2 linked regions of the Homo sapiens genome follow. The protein of the gene in region 2 purifies or fractionates together with the protein of the main gene of each other region. This does not show direct contact. Each region holds a gene or a part of one and is shown on either strand. Other genes may lie near its edges. The genes, in order: FH and ALDH1B1.

Region 1 (7,946 bases), on a different chromosome or scaffold from region 2:
AATTTCACTAAATAGAGTAAGATATACAATAAAGCAAGGCCCAACCATCAGTGTAATTTAATGAAACAAACCAACCAAGGAAGGTGGGATGGGTAGCCACAAAATGAATCATTCAAAGGCTAACGAGTAGCCACAACTACACATTAAATATAGTTCTCCACCTTCATGATTTTCATTCATTCTATACATATTTATGGAGCCAGGCACTCAATATACAACACTGAATAAGAAAGATGCAGGCCCTGCCCTCGCAGAACTTGGAGGCTAGGGAGAAAGAGCTGGCAATTATAAGGGGTAAATACAGAGTAGTGTATGCTGCTATCAGAACACTTATAAAAGCGACCCTTCACTAACACATGGGAGGCTTCCTAGGGGAAGGTGATGCTAAGCTAAAATTTTCCTATTTATCACGAGTCTCTGGAACCCCACTACCCTGCTCACACTCCTTGGACAAGCTCCAAGTTTGAATCAAACAACCCAGATTCCTCTGACCAGTACAAGTTAACACACTGGAAAGATTATTGGGTGGATTATTGCCTTTATCTGTGACTCCCCCAGTTCTCTTTCTTTTGGCAATCACCCTGGATTTGCAATCAACTAAACCTTTATGTCATTCTTCAACATGAAGTACTTTAAAACAAAATTTCATCTCTTCTTATTCTACAGATCCATAATTTCCATAAAAATCTAGAGTCAGGCCTTTCTCACTATTAAAAGTTACATTGTCAGTTTTAGCCCAAGCTACAGTGGCCTTTATGGATCTCAGTTCTGTCATCCATAGTATTGCTATCCCAACTTTGTTAACTGTTAATATGATTAGCATGTATTCTCTTCCTTCACCCTCAGTCACCAGTAAAGTGTTGAAGGGCAGAGCCCTTCAGCTTGTTACCAATATATTCTTCTAGACTGAAGTCACTTCATTAGTCACTTCTGAAATGTCACTGTTCACCCAGCTACATTCATCTGCCAGCACTGCCCACGCTTCTCCACTGGAATCAATGACTATCATGCGAATCTATCAAATGACTTGCTGAAATCCAGACATACACTGTTGTGTCACTTGCTATATCTAACAGGCATATAACGGAATGCAAAAAATGAAATAAGTGAAGTTTGGTATGACTTCTTTTTATTCAACCCGCGCTGATCACTTTAACAGCCTGCTCTACATTTTCTAATGTGGGATTCGAAATACTTGCTGCTAAGTCAGATTCTTTCTTCCTATCTTGTCAGGTGACGTGCCCAGCAGTCCTGACCAGAGGACCACAGACATGCTGGAACAGTGCGCCTTGCGCATCCAGCTGCGGGATAACTTTAAACAAAGAGAGACATGGTCCATAGCTAAGAATGCCTAGGACCTAGTCAAGTTTTAGCTCCAACATTTACTAGCTATGTGATTACCTGGCATGATACTGCTTCCTGGTTCATTTTCAGGCAAGATCAATTCTCCCAGACCTGACCGAGGACCAGAACCCAAAAATCGAATATCATTTGCTATCTTCATCAGACTGCAGGCAGTAGTGTTCATGGCTCCACTGAGCTCAACCAGAGCGTCATGAGCAGCCAGAGCTTCAAATTTATTCGGAGCAGTGACAAAAGGCAAGCCTAAAGAAAAGAAAAATATCCTAGATGGGTGAACAAGTTAAACTAAACATTTTTCTACCATTAGCAAGTGAAACAGAAAGTTCCAATATACGAAAAAATAAAAATTTTACTTCAGAAAAAAATGTTTACTTAAGACTCAAATTTTGTCTACATTTTTAAAAGAAGTCCTAAAGGAGTAGAAAGAATCTGGTATTACATTTTTTAAGTTTTTTCAGACAGGGTCTCACTCTGCTGCCCAGGCTGGAGTGCAGTGTGGCTCAATCACAGCTCACTGTAGCCTCAACCTCCATGGCTCAGGCAATCCTCCCACCTCAGCCTCCAGAGTAGCTAAGACTACAGGTGCACACCACCACGCCCAGCTAATTCTTTAATTTTTAGTAGAGATGGGGTTTCGCCATGTTGCCCAGGCTGGTCTCAAACTCCTAGGCTCTAGCGATCCACCCACCTTGGTCTCCTGAAGTGCTGGAATTACAGGAGTGTAATTCCACTGTGCTTAGCCAGGCACTACATTTTAAAAAGATGAAATAACAAGTATGATAAATGTACTGAAAGAAAAAACACAATCCTACTGCAAACACACGTATATGATGCCTGACTATGCTTGAGTAAAAAGTATATGGGAATTCATTCTGGTTTATACCACACTCCTTTCCTAATACCTTTTTTCTTTTTTTTTTTTTTGAGACAGAGTCTTGCTTTTTTAGCCAGGCTGGAGGGCAGTGGTACGATCTTGGCTCATTGCAACCTCCTCCTCCAGGGTTCCAGCAATTCTCCTGCCTCAGCCTCCCAAGTAGCTGGGGTTACAGGCGCCCGCCACCATGCCCGGCTAATTTTTTTAAATTTTTACTAGAGACAGGGTTTCGCCATGTTGACCAGGCTGGTCTCGAACTCCTGACCTCAAGTGATCTGCCCATCTTGGCCTCCCAAAGTGCTAGGATTACAGGTGTGAGCCCCCATGTCCGGCCCCTAATACAATTTTTTAAAGTTTCTTTGTCCACTTTACTGTGCTTCATCCTCTCCCCTAGCCAGGAGCCCACAAGATCCCCTATAAAAACAGTGTGCTAAAATGAGTTAGATGTTCTCAGTTAACCCCCATGTTAAAAATTTTATAAATCTACATTTGCCAAACCCTAAAAGTAGAGTTCTTTTCTATTAAAATATGGTTTAAAGACAAATCAGCTGGTAAGCTATCATGTGCAGTGTATAATTATCTCTACCCTAACCGTCTGGTAACATCTACATCTTAATGAGAGTTTTCTGAAGATGACAACTTGGCCCTAATAATAGTTATCATTATCTAAAGTATAATACTCTCTCTACTAAAGGAAAGACATGGTTCAAAAAGGTCAATAATTCAAAGAATTATCACAGCATGACATAATAGGAAAAAAAAGAAATTAAGTCTGTCTACAACATATTTACTATTCAAATAACTTACTCAACACTCAGTTTTTTCTGCCTATTTTGAAAACTGCTATTCAAAACTTTAAAGGGAAATTAATTGAAAACTAACTAGTAAACAAAGCTAACACTGGTAGATTTTAATGGCATGCTGTATAAACTCCTACATGGAACATTTTTTAAAAGGCAAATAATTAACATTATAACTTCAGAAATATACTTAAAACACATGTTTGATGGAAAAATATCATTTCTAACTTTAAATTCACAAGAATTCAAGACAGGAACACTCAGAAAATGTACAGACCACGTATAATGAGAAATGAAAATGAGAAATAATTCACGTGATCACTAACCTGTAAGTGCAGCCACTTTTGCAGCAACCTTTTCTGCAAAGCCAATTCTAGTATTTAAACCTGTACCAACAGCAGTGCCTCCAGCTGCGAGCTCATAGATTCTTGGCATGGCAGCTTTTATTCTTGTCATTGCATATTTTACTTGTTGAACATAACCACTAAATTCCTGAAAAGAAAAGAAAATTAAGGTAAGAATAAGTAATTCCTAATAGCTTACAAGTTACTCTAACTGCATTAAATAGAAATTTTTAAAAATACCTTTCAGAATACTAAATTACAAGCTAATCAAGTTTTATTTATACTACTTCAAATCTTATGATGAGCAAAGTATAGGGAAGGATGAGGGTTTATAGAACCATAAGGTACGACAATGCCACTGATAACATGCAGCCTATTTATTATAATCTAGTCTTTTAATAGGAAGCAAAGAAAAACAGCACAGGAAATACACTTTAAAAAGAACAACTTTACTACACTAAATTATTGGTTTACTTGCAGTCTACTAAAGAAACTGAAGTGATTTCTTATTTTTTGGGATGCCTCAGACAACTTTGGTGTAAGAAAAAATAGTAACTCATCTCCCCCAAAAAAATGCAAACATAGAAATATTCTCCATACAATTTCAGTGTATAAACCTACCAGGAAATATGAAGACATTCTACAGAGACTTGGGAAGCTAATGACTCACTGAATAGCACAGGAAGGTAACAGTTTGCATTGAAGGACCTTCCAAAAAGAATAGGAGGTAACGGTAGAGTCAGATCATAGCATCAATGTGCCAATGTCAACACTGGTTCCAAATTTTGACATGCCTTAATTAAAGCAACCACAGAATTTATGTTTTGAACACAGAAAGGGCTCTATTAATAGTCATGCAGAAACAAAAGGCATACACTGGGAGTTAACTGGACAAACCAAGATACATGGTTACACTAAATCTATCCTTTTTTCCTGCCTGAAAACACTAAAAAACCATAAGTGACAGGATGCCATACTGTTCTAAAGAAAACATTTCAAAAGATATAACTCATTATAGGTAGACCTGATGCATCTGATATAACATCACTCATATACAGTCACGCACCACATAATGATGTTTCAGCCAACGAAAGATCACATAAACAGTGGGACCCTAAGATTATAAAACCGTATTTTTACTGTACCTTTTCTACATTTAGATATGTTTAGATACACAAATACTTACCATTGTGTTACGATTGCCTATTGTATCCAATGCAGTAACATGCTGCACAGATTTGTAGCCTAGGAGGAAAAGGCTATGCCATATAGCCTAGGTGTATAGAAGGCTATACCATCTAGGTTTGTGTGAGTATACTCTGTGATGTTCACATAACTATGAAATTGCCTAAGGATGCATTTTTCAGAACATACCCCCATTGCTAAGCAACACATGACTGTATGTATACACACACACACAAACACACTAGATAGATTCACTTATAAAATACACTTTGACAGGGAACAATGCACGAACTCAAAAGACAATCCCAATAAAAGCAAGTATAAATGCTTCTGATAAAGTCAAACAGAAAAATGTAATTTTCTGTCTTAACAGGAAGAATGATGATTTTACACAGGAGGCTGAGTCATGGCCCAAATGGTATTTAGTATTGTAGTTTTCAACACCAAAAAAAGGTTAAAATTAGAAACTTGAGAAATATTCAAAAGTTTCAAAACATACATACTGTTCCTCCTTAGAAATTATGCATGGTCCTAAGTACTAATGATGCAAAGAGAAATGAGACACAGCCTTAAGAAGCAACTCAATCCAGTGAGTTCAATTTAGTCCCATCATTTGTTTTTCAATTACTCATTTCAAGTTTTCCTCATTCCTTCCATAAGGAAATTAAGCTACCCCAATTGGAGTGTGAGTTTACTAAGACAAAAGTCATTCCCTGTATTTCCTTACATTTCCTTCACAATGTATACTATTAGATATTCCTTAAGGCATTGAAAAAGAAACATGAAAATACTTTCTAATATCTTGGAGAAGAGAGTAGTATCTCCTTCACATGCGGCCAGATCCATCTTAAAAAGATCTACCTTATTTAATCACTTTGAGATTAAATTTTAAATAACCTACTAATTTAGGTAAGAAAGACAAAAGAAAAACCATGATGATACTGATGGAGATGACAGCGATGACGGTGGTGATGATGGTAGCTAACATGAATGGGTACTTACTGTGTGCCAGGCATGCTTCTAAGCACTCTACATAAATCAACTTACTAGAGCTTCACAACTATCCTATGAAAGGGAAATTATTTTCCTCATTTTGTAGCTCAGAAAACTGAGGCACAGAAAGGCTAAATGACTTTCCTATGGTCCCATAGCTTGTACACAGCAAAGCTAAGATTTGAACCCGAGCAGTCTGACTGAATCTGACTTATAGCCAGTATACTCTGCTTTTCTTCTAAGTGGATGTCAATGAAAATTACTGATTGGTTGAACAGAACAACCTCTGTCACTGAAGTTTCCGGTTACAAATTTGGCCTTTTAAGCTAGTCAGATTTCAAGGATGACACATTGGCCATTTGTACCAAGCTCTAAATTGAATCAAATTAGTCAAACTCCTATACCTGCCCAAGAGTAAGTGGAACAGCATCCTGAGTATGAGTACGTCCAATCTTGATGATCTGTGCAAACTCTTTGGATTTTGCATCAAGAGCATCATGTAACTTCTGTAGTCCTGGTAACAGTACTTCATGAACTTCTATTGCAGCAGCAATGTGCATTGCTGTGGGAAAAGTATCATTTGAGCTCTGTTGGAAATTTTTCAAAAGAAATATAAAATGTTAAATCAGAGGCAACAAAAACAAACTTCTGAATTAAACTTCTCAATTAAAAAACTCTCCAACTAACTACTCAAAACCCAGCTCAGTTACATGTATGTGTGGCATGTCATAGGTGAGTTATTATAGAATCAAATAAGCAGCATCCTGGTTTCTAACACATACTCAGAACTGTATTATACACATTAAGTATACTGAATGTATTATGTATTATATATGTATTACGTATTATATTATATTATGTATTATATAATATATTATGTATTATATTATGTATTACGTATTATATCTGCCTGCTAATAAATGACAGCAAAATACAGAGAAGTATAGTTAACAACTGCACTTGAAGACAGCAGTAGTATCTTCAATGTAGTTGAATATCTTATAATTATATCAAATTACATCAATTATTGAATTATATATTCTTATAAAATCTTATAATTGAATATCTTACAATTATACAGTGCATACAGTCTTTCATAAACAGCTCTTTATTAAGTTTAGAAAAATTCTGTGAGGTAGATTACCACTTTAAAAATAGGAAAGCCAAGCCCTCAAAGAGACTGTATAAATGCCAAAATATTTAGCAACTGGCAAACCTGAGACCTAGCCAGGTAGTATATACTCAGTGCTCTTTCCTCAACTGTTGACCCTGTACTTTTAAAACATAATATCAAGCTGGGTGCAGTGGCTCATGCCTATAACCTCAGCACTTTCAGAGGCTGAGGCAGGAGGATCAATTGAGGCCAGGAGTTTAAGACCAGCCTGGGCAACACAGAGCAATACCCTGTCTCTGAAAACATTTTTAAAGTTAGCCAGGCATGGCGGTGCATGCCTATGGTCCCACTTGCTCAGGAAGCTAAGGCATGAGGATCCCTGGAGCTCAGCATTTCCAGGCTGCAGTGAGCTATGCTCACTCTACTGCACTCCAGCCTGGGTGACAGAGTGAAGCACAATCTCTAAACACACACACACACACACACACACACACACACACACACACACACACGCATGCACACACACAGATATATATAAAAGTATACTGTCATTTAAAAAGATACATTATTTATATATTTTGACGTTTACTATGCAAAATATAAAGTACTTACGAAAGAAGTAGGATGAATGGTATAATAAACACTTATGTACCTGTCACCTGAATTCAAATAGTTTACATAATTATCAACATGTAGCCAATCACGTTTCATCTATAACTCTACCTTTCTGAGGCAGACTTCAGACTTCAGTATATATAGAACATAAATTCATAAAGGCAAGTATTAGATTGGGAAAATCCCTTATACAATGAACGTGTATTAAAAACACTTCTTCCTTACTACTTAAAAATATATTAAATTATACTTAGCACCCAGATCTCAGTTTCTAAATATCATTTTCCAATAAGAATTCTCCAACAGTTCCTTGAAAAATGGCTGTTTCTAGGGCTGGGGCAGAAACAATACAAGACAATGAGCTTGGAGCATCTTAAAGTACCAGGAAGTCGGAACACACTTCAGAAAAGTAAAAGGATGGTGGCATGCCTAAAAGGACACAAGAGCCAAATGAATTGGGTTCCCAGAGCTGAAAGAATTTAAGCAACAATATAAACAAAAGTATGGGATCATAACCTGAAGAATAAAATAAATAACCATCAGTCCATACTGATATACCCAAATAACTGAATAAATAAATAAATGGGACAGAGAGAACAAATCTTCCTTGCAGAAAAATTCAACTAACAAGTGTAGAATGAATAAAGAAAACTGAAAAT
Region 2 (7,959 bases):
CTCTTTCTCTGACTCCTGTTTCCCTTCGATAAGGACCCTTGTGATTACATTAGGCCCTGGCTATACAATCTAGAATAATCTCCCACCTCCAGATCATTAACTACAATATCCTCTTTTGCCATGTAAGGTAATGTCTTCATAGGTACCAGGTGTTAGGACATTGACGTCTTTAGGGGCCATTATTCTGCCTACCACAATCAGTGTACATAAGGTGAAGCAATAGGGAGTGGTGAGGCCTGTGGCAAACTGGAAAATGAAAGCCCTGCCTAAAGGGGGCAGCTACTACGTGCATCTCTAGTTGAGCCACTGTTCCATATCCACGTGCAGGCCTGATAGTACTAAGTCTTCCAATGTTTCAAGAACAAATAGAAAAGTACATTTTAATGTCAAATATCTCAATGTTTAAGCATTAGAAAGCATAAAACGGGGAAAAAAAACCCCACAACTCTGCTGGGGCCAAATAGAACATGTATGCTGGCTTGAGACTTGGGCTACCAGTTTGTGGTGTCTAGTCTGGAGCTTCTTCCTCACTAGGACAGTTAAGGCAGCATTACTTTATTTTGTGCTGCTTGTCACCTTGTCAGTGGGAGAAGAGACAGGCAGGTGTGAAGCCCAGGCTCTCTCTCAGGCCCCAGGGTGGTGTTGGTATTTCCCTTCCATTTACCACCCACGTTCCTCCCTTGACCTCTGTCCAAACTCCTCCTCATCTCTCCAAAAGAAGGAGCTCCCAAGGTTGCACGTGGCTCTGCCTTCAATTACTGTTTATTTCATTTGCATGTGGCTTTTCTCCTTGACCTTAACATGAGGAGGGGAGCCACAGCCAGGGCAGCGTAGTAAAAGCTGAGCCTTTTGCTCTGCTAGGGTGAACTCTAACTGTGCTTTACAGGTGCTATTGCCACACGTAAGCACTGCAACAGTCTTCTCTCCCTGCCCCACCGGACCCCAACCTCCTCCTCCTCTCAGTTGGGTCTTCCTTAGTCTCAATGATGCTGTCAGTTAAGGTGTGGTCAAGAAAATGGAAGCCACTCTAGGTGTTTTGAGTAGGAAGAGATTAATATTAACACAAGTGTTGGGAGGCTGGGAAGTGAAGGGCACTAAGCTATTGTCAAGAAATCTGGAAGTGCTAGGATTATAGGGAGGCTACTACCAGTGTTCTCTGCAGTCCACAGTCATGAACGGAGCACTCCTTAGGGGGGCCTTCAAAGCCTTGGGTAGAAATCCACCTCTGCAGATGCCCACGCACCAGCTGCATGTTTTGCTTCCAGGCCAGTGTTATTTGTGTGATTGTGCAAGAGCTTGGCTTCTAGTCTGCACTTGGATACTAATCCCCTAATCCCTTCCAAAGGGACCTTGGGCAAGTCCCTTTTCCTTTTTGGGTCTCAGTTTCTTCAACCATAAAAATGAGGTGAAGGGGAAGGAAGACAGAGAGGGAGGAGAACAGAGTTTGTGGCAAATACTCAGGGGTTAGTTATGTTCAACAACATTCAGACTTGCTCATGTTCACAGAGAGTAAGCTTCACTTAGAGGATCACTTAGGAAAAAAGAAAAAAGTATATATTGGTTTGATTTTTAAATGTATCTTTATTTTTAAATTTCCATTTCCTGCAAATGCCTCAGTGTCTTGACCTAGTCTTGCCTCTTCCGTTCAAATACAGAAAATGATTATGCTCAGTGTAGAAGAAACACTCAGTGCAGCTTTCAGTCCTTTTGTTTGGAATCTAGCTGATCTGTACGTCATTCTCAGAGCTGGATTCTTCTTCAGTAACTTCTTAGACATATAAGGCTCTACAACGCTGAAGGATAGAAATTGCTTCTCTTCTCCCACCAGCCCAGTGTAAACACATCCCTGGACGACACTGACCTGACTGTGGCTTGTGTTATCTCACCCTTTCCCCTTCAATCCACACAGGCTCCAGGTCCAATATCCTTACAAAGGGCCTGGATCTTTTTTTGTTAATTAAAAAGCTGAATCCATCACATTCCTGGAAAATAGTCAACCCTCTGCAAAAATAATTTGTGCATTTTACCTTCAGCTACTGCACATTCATTCTTCTCTCCAAACCATAAATGTCAAGCACTGTGGAAGTTTTTTTTTTTTTTTTTTGAGGAGGGGTAAATACCTTGCAACAGGACCACTTTGGTGAGTTCTGATGCCAGTCACAGCTTAGAAAGTGTCAAAGGTGGGCATGCTGGATAGAATCTAGACATAACACATTTGCAGGCAAAGTCACTTTCTGGAAATAACCATGACGGAGTCAAAGACTCCTCAGAAACCACTTAGGCCAGTGCTTCCCAAATATGGTTATATATCAGAAGCATATGAGAAACTTGGCCAGGCGCAGTGGCTCATGCCTGTAATCCCCGCACTTTGGGAGGCTGAGCAGGGCGGATCACTTGAGGTCAGGAGTTTGAGACCAGCCTGGTCAACATAGTGAAACCCCGTCTCTACTAAAAATACAAAAATTAGCTGGCATGGTGGCACGCTCCTGTAGTCCAAGCTACTCAGGAGTCTGAGGCAGGAGACTCACCTGAATTGGGGAGGCGGAGGCGGCAGTGAGCCGAGATGGCACTGTTGTACTCCAGCCTGGGTGACAGAGTAAGACTCCATCTCAAAACAAAACAAAACAAAACAAAACAAAAAAGGAAGCATATGAGAAACTTAACAAAAACTTCTGGGCTCCAACCTACATCTAATAATTTAGACTCTCTGAAGGCAAGGTCCAGGAGATTGTTAAAAAACAAAAACAAAAACACAAACAAACAAAAAAAACTAAGCTCCCCACTCAATTCTGATGTATAGCTAAGTTTGGGAGCCCCTTGTCTAGTTCTTATCTGAACTAGGATTTTGCCACATGGTTATCTGTCCTTCCCTGTACTCCTCCAGTGATGGGAGGCCCACTGCCTTTCAAGGGAGCCCCTCCCAGCCTTAGCCAGTTCTGCTTTTTCTGGGAGTTATTCCTCTGTATTCTTCACTGGTCTGGCTCTGCCTTCTAGGACCCCACAGATCCTATCTGGTTTTGCCCTTCAGAGATTTGGACGGCACAGCCTTGTCTTTCAAGTTCTAAAGGGTGAACATCCCAGTTCCTTCAGCTGCTCCTCAAGGGGCACAGCCTCCAACCTTGCCGCATGGGGGTCACTTCCTGTCTGCAGCTGGCCTCTCAGACCTGCCACAGTTTCCAATGCACTCTAACACGAGGACTGATACTCATTTTGCCATAAACTCACTCCCTCTATCAATGAGGCCTCTTAAGGATTGGTCAGTTAATCATTAAGTCAATCAGTCCTGGAGTGCTATGCCAAGTGCCCAAGGGGAGCTAGGCTGTCCACGTGCTGTGGGGGAGGCAGGAGGGCCTTGGCAAGGGGCTCATGCCGTTGCTGGAGAAACCCGAGGAAAGCATGGGCATCAAGGTGATAAGATGCCAATCATAGTGCCTTCATGGATGGCTAACTTTTGCAGCAAGGGCTGTGAACATGCTAAGGATGATATGGTAGCAAAAGATTCCATAGAGATGTAGCTTAAGGAAAGAACTAAGTGAATTAGGTCCAAGCAGTCGCATGTGAGCACCCTAGATCAGTGGAGAGGCAGGGATTTAATACAAGGAACTGGGTGCTTACAGACCTGCTGCAAGTGCCGGAGGCAGAAGCAAGCCTTAGCCAGACCAGGACCAACTCTCAGGACAATATGGACGTGGCCCACCAGCCTCGTGCCTGTCTGAGGCTACTTCAGACACCCTCCTGCAGCCTCCATTCAAAGAGCAGGAAGCCAGGTCAAGGAGCGGCTACAGCCACAGCGGCCGGTCCACAGCCAGAAAGCTGGAGAAGGGACAAGGAATGCTGCCGCAGAACATCTCCCATTTCTGCTATCCTGCTAGTGCCACCCTACAGGGGCAGGACAATACCCTCCAATGCGTGCCCGCCTTCCACATCCGGCAGAGTACTACTAATTGGCAGCACCTAGTCCACATCCAGAACTCTAACTGCAAATGAGGCTGGGAAACATGGCGGTTAGCTTTGGGACCTCCCTAGCCAGAAGGAAGGTGCAGCGAGGGTGGAGCGAGTGAGATGCATGTTCAGTGGTCCATCTTGGCAACCTTTATAGCAACAAAATGGAGACAATTAAATGTCCAACAGTTTACCCCTACAACAGAATTCTATGCCACCTTGGAGAGGATGATGTCATCTGTAATTAGTGATAGGAGAAAACTTCAAAATACAGCGCTAAGTTTTTAAATTTTTTTTAAAGCAGCACAACAGAGGTTACTATATGATTTTATTTTTATTAAAATAATTTTGAAAGATGCAGAGGAAACAATACTAGCAGGACGAACACCGTAATAATGGCTACCGTAGGTGAAGAGATTACAGGTGATATTTTTCTTCTTTTTTCATCCTTTCCTGTGTTTTCCAAGCTTTCTACACTGTGCATACATTCTTTTTGTCCTTAGGACAAAAATGTACTTTGAAAAATGCCCAAATATAAAATCTTCTTGAAGGAACTGAAGAAAGGAGCAGTGAAAGTGGAGGACAGAAATTAGTGAATCCTGGACAAAAAAAGTGAGGGAGAGGCGAGGCAGAGAAGGGGTTAAGGGGAGTCTCAAGGATGGCAGTCGATTAAGCAGCGTCTTGCAGCGGGGAGAAATGCAAAGTGTAGTTGGGGTTCGGTCTCCGAAAACTTTGCTGTGTGACCTGGGGAAGCCCCTGCCCCTCTCTGGGTATCTCTGTTTCCGCTCCCAAACCAGTGCCTTAGGAGCCTAGATCTGAGCAACGTGGACACTGGGCTTGCGGAGACCCGAGGGAGGGAGCGCTGAAGCGGTGCGGGCTGCCGGGGGTAGAGGGGCGGGGACCGGGAAAGACCGGGCGGGGCGAGGGAGGAGCGGCCTTGGCCGGCGACAGGACGTAGGCAGCGCCCCAGGCGCAGGCGGAGCCTCATTGGCCGCTGAGCCCCGGGCTGCGCGGAGGCGGGACCTGCGGCCAGCCCTGGGCGGCCATGTGGACAGAGCTGGGAGGGCCGGAACCAGAACCCAAGCGTGATCCTGAACCGGAGCCCGAGCCTGCTGCAGGTAACTAACGCTGGTCTCCCCTCGGCTCCCTCGGGAAGCCGCAGCTCCTGGCTCCGCGTGGGGGCTTTCCTCTCTGGGCCGCGGCGTCCGCATCTGGGGGCTGGCCTTTCCGCCGTTGCACTGTAGGACTCTCTCCACGTCCCCTAATCCCATCCCCCGCCTCTGGGTGACGCTACAGGAGCCCCGAGGACACAGACGCCCCCAGACCTTACCACGTTAGCTCGACCTCAACACTCCTGCCCACTCGGCCCACTTCAACAGAGGGCCCCTGACCATAGCCCAGAGGCTTGGACAAGCCCAAAGGTTGCGCCCTTTCCCCCGCAGAAGGGGTGAGGTGGGCGCCGCTGCAGTTCCCGCGGATAGAGAAGGTCCGGTCCTTCCCGCTGTGGGTGAACTGTAAAAAATTGCCTGTATTCAGGAGGATATGCAAAGCTAGGTTTGTGGAAGTCTGGGGTGAGGCTCCTATACTTTCTTGCTGTGTGTCCTCGGTGAGTCCCTGAACCTCTCTGATGCCCAGCCTTCTTCCAGAATGGGGGTCATCATCAACCCTGACCACCCAGGGACTGCAGAGAGGCTTGGCAAATTTCCCGTGAGAAGACAGCCTGCAAACTGTAAAGCATGATGCTCTGTGAGCTGTGATCTTCCTATCAGCAAGTGGAGGCCCCAGCAAGAACCCCATATAGGCCCCAAGAGTAGGAACGGCCTTGGTGTGGCTGCAAAGGTTTGCCAGCCTTGGCCTATGACCACCTCTCCTGACTGCTTCACCCCTCCAATCCTTACCCCATGGGTTGGTGACTCCCCTTTCCCCTACCTCCTTTTGGTCTCCTCACCCTCAGAGCCAGGCCTGTTGGTGGCAAGGGGGCTGTGTCCCAGCATATGGCAAAGTCCTGAGCTAAATGGAACCCTGGGCACCCCTGGCAGATCTGCTGACTCAGCTTCCCCCTGTGGGATATGATGAGGTTTCTCTTCAAATAATCTGATCAATCTTTTATTCTTTAATTCTTAGTATCCCCCCCTTTTTTTTTTTCATTTTTCTCCTTTTTGCCTTTGTTAGATGCCCAGGCATGCCACAGTACCAAGCGTTATCAGTACCAGCTCACATTCCTTTGCTTATTTGGAAAGAAGACTAACTTTCTAGCTCATTACAGACACCCTTTCCCCTTTCTCTCCACTTTCTTTTACGTGCCCACTCTATCTAAAATAAATCAAATGTTTAGCCAACCGGGATTAGTTTAGATTGTACGACCTGACCCCAGCCAATGGGGAAAGGGTACAGGGGCAGGACTTGCATCAGGAATAAAGGCTCTCGTGCCCCTTTGTTCAGGTGTGCTCTCATGGCAACTGGCCAAGGAGGCATCCCTCTGCGCAGAAGTAAAATTGCTTTGCTAAGAATCCTGTGTTCGAGTGTTCAATTTCCTTAGGATTTTGAGCATTATTCCTAACACCCGCAAGGGGAAGGGAAACTTTCTTGGTCAGCATTGATTATTATTATTTTTTTTAGATACAGTCTTGTTCTGTTACCCAGGCTGGAGTGCAGTGGCACAATCATGGCTCACTGCAGCCTCAACCTCCTGGGCTCAGGTGATTGCCCCCACCTCAGCCTCCCAAGCAGCTAGAACTACAGGCATGCACCACTATGCTCGGCAAATTTATTTTTGTTTTTTTGTAGAGACACGGTTCTTGCTATGTGCTCAGGCTGGTCTCAAACTCCTGGCCTCAAGCAGTCCTTCCACTTCGGCCTACCAAAGCGTTACCAGCGTAAGCCACCACGCCCATCACATTGATTTTTATGGGGCCGGGGACCTACATGGAGCCTTGCTTTCCTGATTGAGTTTTTTGTTCCTCTCCCTGCCCAGGGGTGGAGGGTGAGAGGCTGGGGGTGAAGGGACAGGCAGGTGCAATTCCATTTTACCGCTGGGCGGAGCAAGACTCATGAGACATCAAAGGCAGAGAGATTCAAATTCTGACTGAAGAATAACTGCTTCAACTAATCTGGGAACACTACACTCTGTTTAATTTTCATTTAATATGTATTATATGCCGTTTAAGTTTTATAACAGTAGTTGTTTTAACGAAGTCTACACTCTTCAGAGTTGTAGCTTTTCTTCTCAGCTGCCTCCTGACTTGCTGCACCTCTGGGAAAGCTGAAAAGGGATGCTGAGACCTGTGGTTGGGGGATGCTGGGCTAGGTCAATTTCTGAGGCACGGCCAGTTCTGATGTCCTGAGTGGAGCTTGCCAGGGTTTTTATATGCAAGACATCATTCAACATAACCCCATGAGGCATTTCACATATGGGGGAACTGAGGCACAGAGGTGAAATGAAGCAAGTCCCTCTCAGAGAACAACCATCTCCAAGTCCCTTTGATTTCTACTCAAGTCTTAGGTCAATTCTTAGACAGCCTTTGTGGCAATTTCAGTGTTTTCTCAGTGTATCATTCAGTACTGTGTGTTGAGCCGCTGCTCTGTAGCAGGCATACCTCTAGGCTCGGGGACGTAGCAGTGAATGGAACAGAAAAATAAGTTCCTGTGCTCATGGAGCTTGCATTTTACTGGGGGGAGACAGACAAACATATAAGCCTGTAAAGATAGTATTTGGGATGTGAGATAGAGAAGGAGTAAAGCAGGGTAGCGGGGATAGAGAGTGTTGGGGTGGGAAGGGTTGCAATTTTTTAAAGGGTGGTCAGGGAAGGCCTTGCTGAGACAGTGGCTTTTGAGACCCAGCAGAGGTGAGGGAGTGAGCTGAGGATAGGCGGGACGTGATGGAGTTGGCCCAGAGAGTTCATCAGGGCCCTCACAGCTCTTACAGTCTGTGTTTTTAGAGGTGACAGTCCTTTATGCTGGAATCTTGAAATGTTTGAGCTGGTGGGCCCTTGGGTACCGCCACCTGCCTTCTCCCAC

What was found.
Region 1: the proteins of ALDH1B1 (region 2) and FH fractionate together in Homo sapiens (co-fractionation; 2 studies listed by BioGRID). This does not show direct contact.

What each region holds. Positions count from the first base shown.
Region 1 is NC_000001.11:241,502,641-241,510,586, forward strand, and holds part of FH (fumarate hydratase, mitochondrial), read right to left. Parts: intron 6,146-7,946; coding exon 5,963-6,145; intron 3,529-5,962; coding exon 3,363-3,528; intron 1,606-3,362; coding exon 1,402-1,605; intron 1-1,401. UniProt on the Homo sapiens protein: Catalyzes the reversible stereospecific interconversion of fumarate to L-malate. Experiments in other species have demonstrated that specific isoforms of this protein act in defined pathways and favor one direction over the other.
Region 2 is NC_000009.12:38,387,748-38,395,706, forward strand, and holds the start of ALDH1B1 (aldehyde dehydrogenase X, mitochondrial precursor), read left to right. Parts: upstream 1-4,954; 5' UTR 4,955-5,060; exon of another isoform or gene 5,061-6,686; coding exon of another isoform or gene 6,687-6,818; intron 6,819-7,959. UniProt on the Homo sapiens protein: ALDHs play a major role in the detoxification of alcohol-derived acetaldehyde. They are involved in the metabolism of corticosteroids, biogenic amines, neurotransmitters, and lipid peroxidation.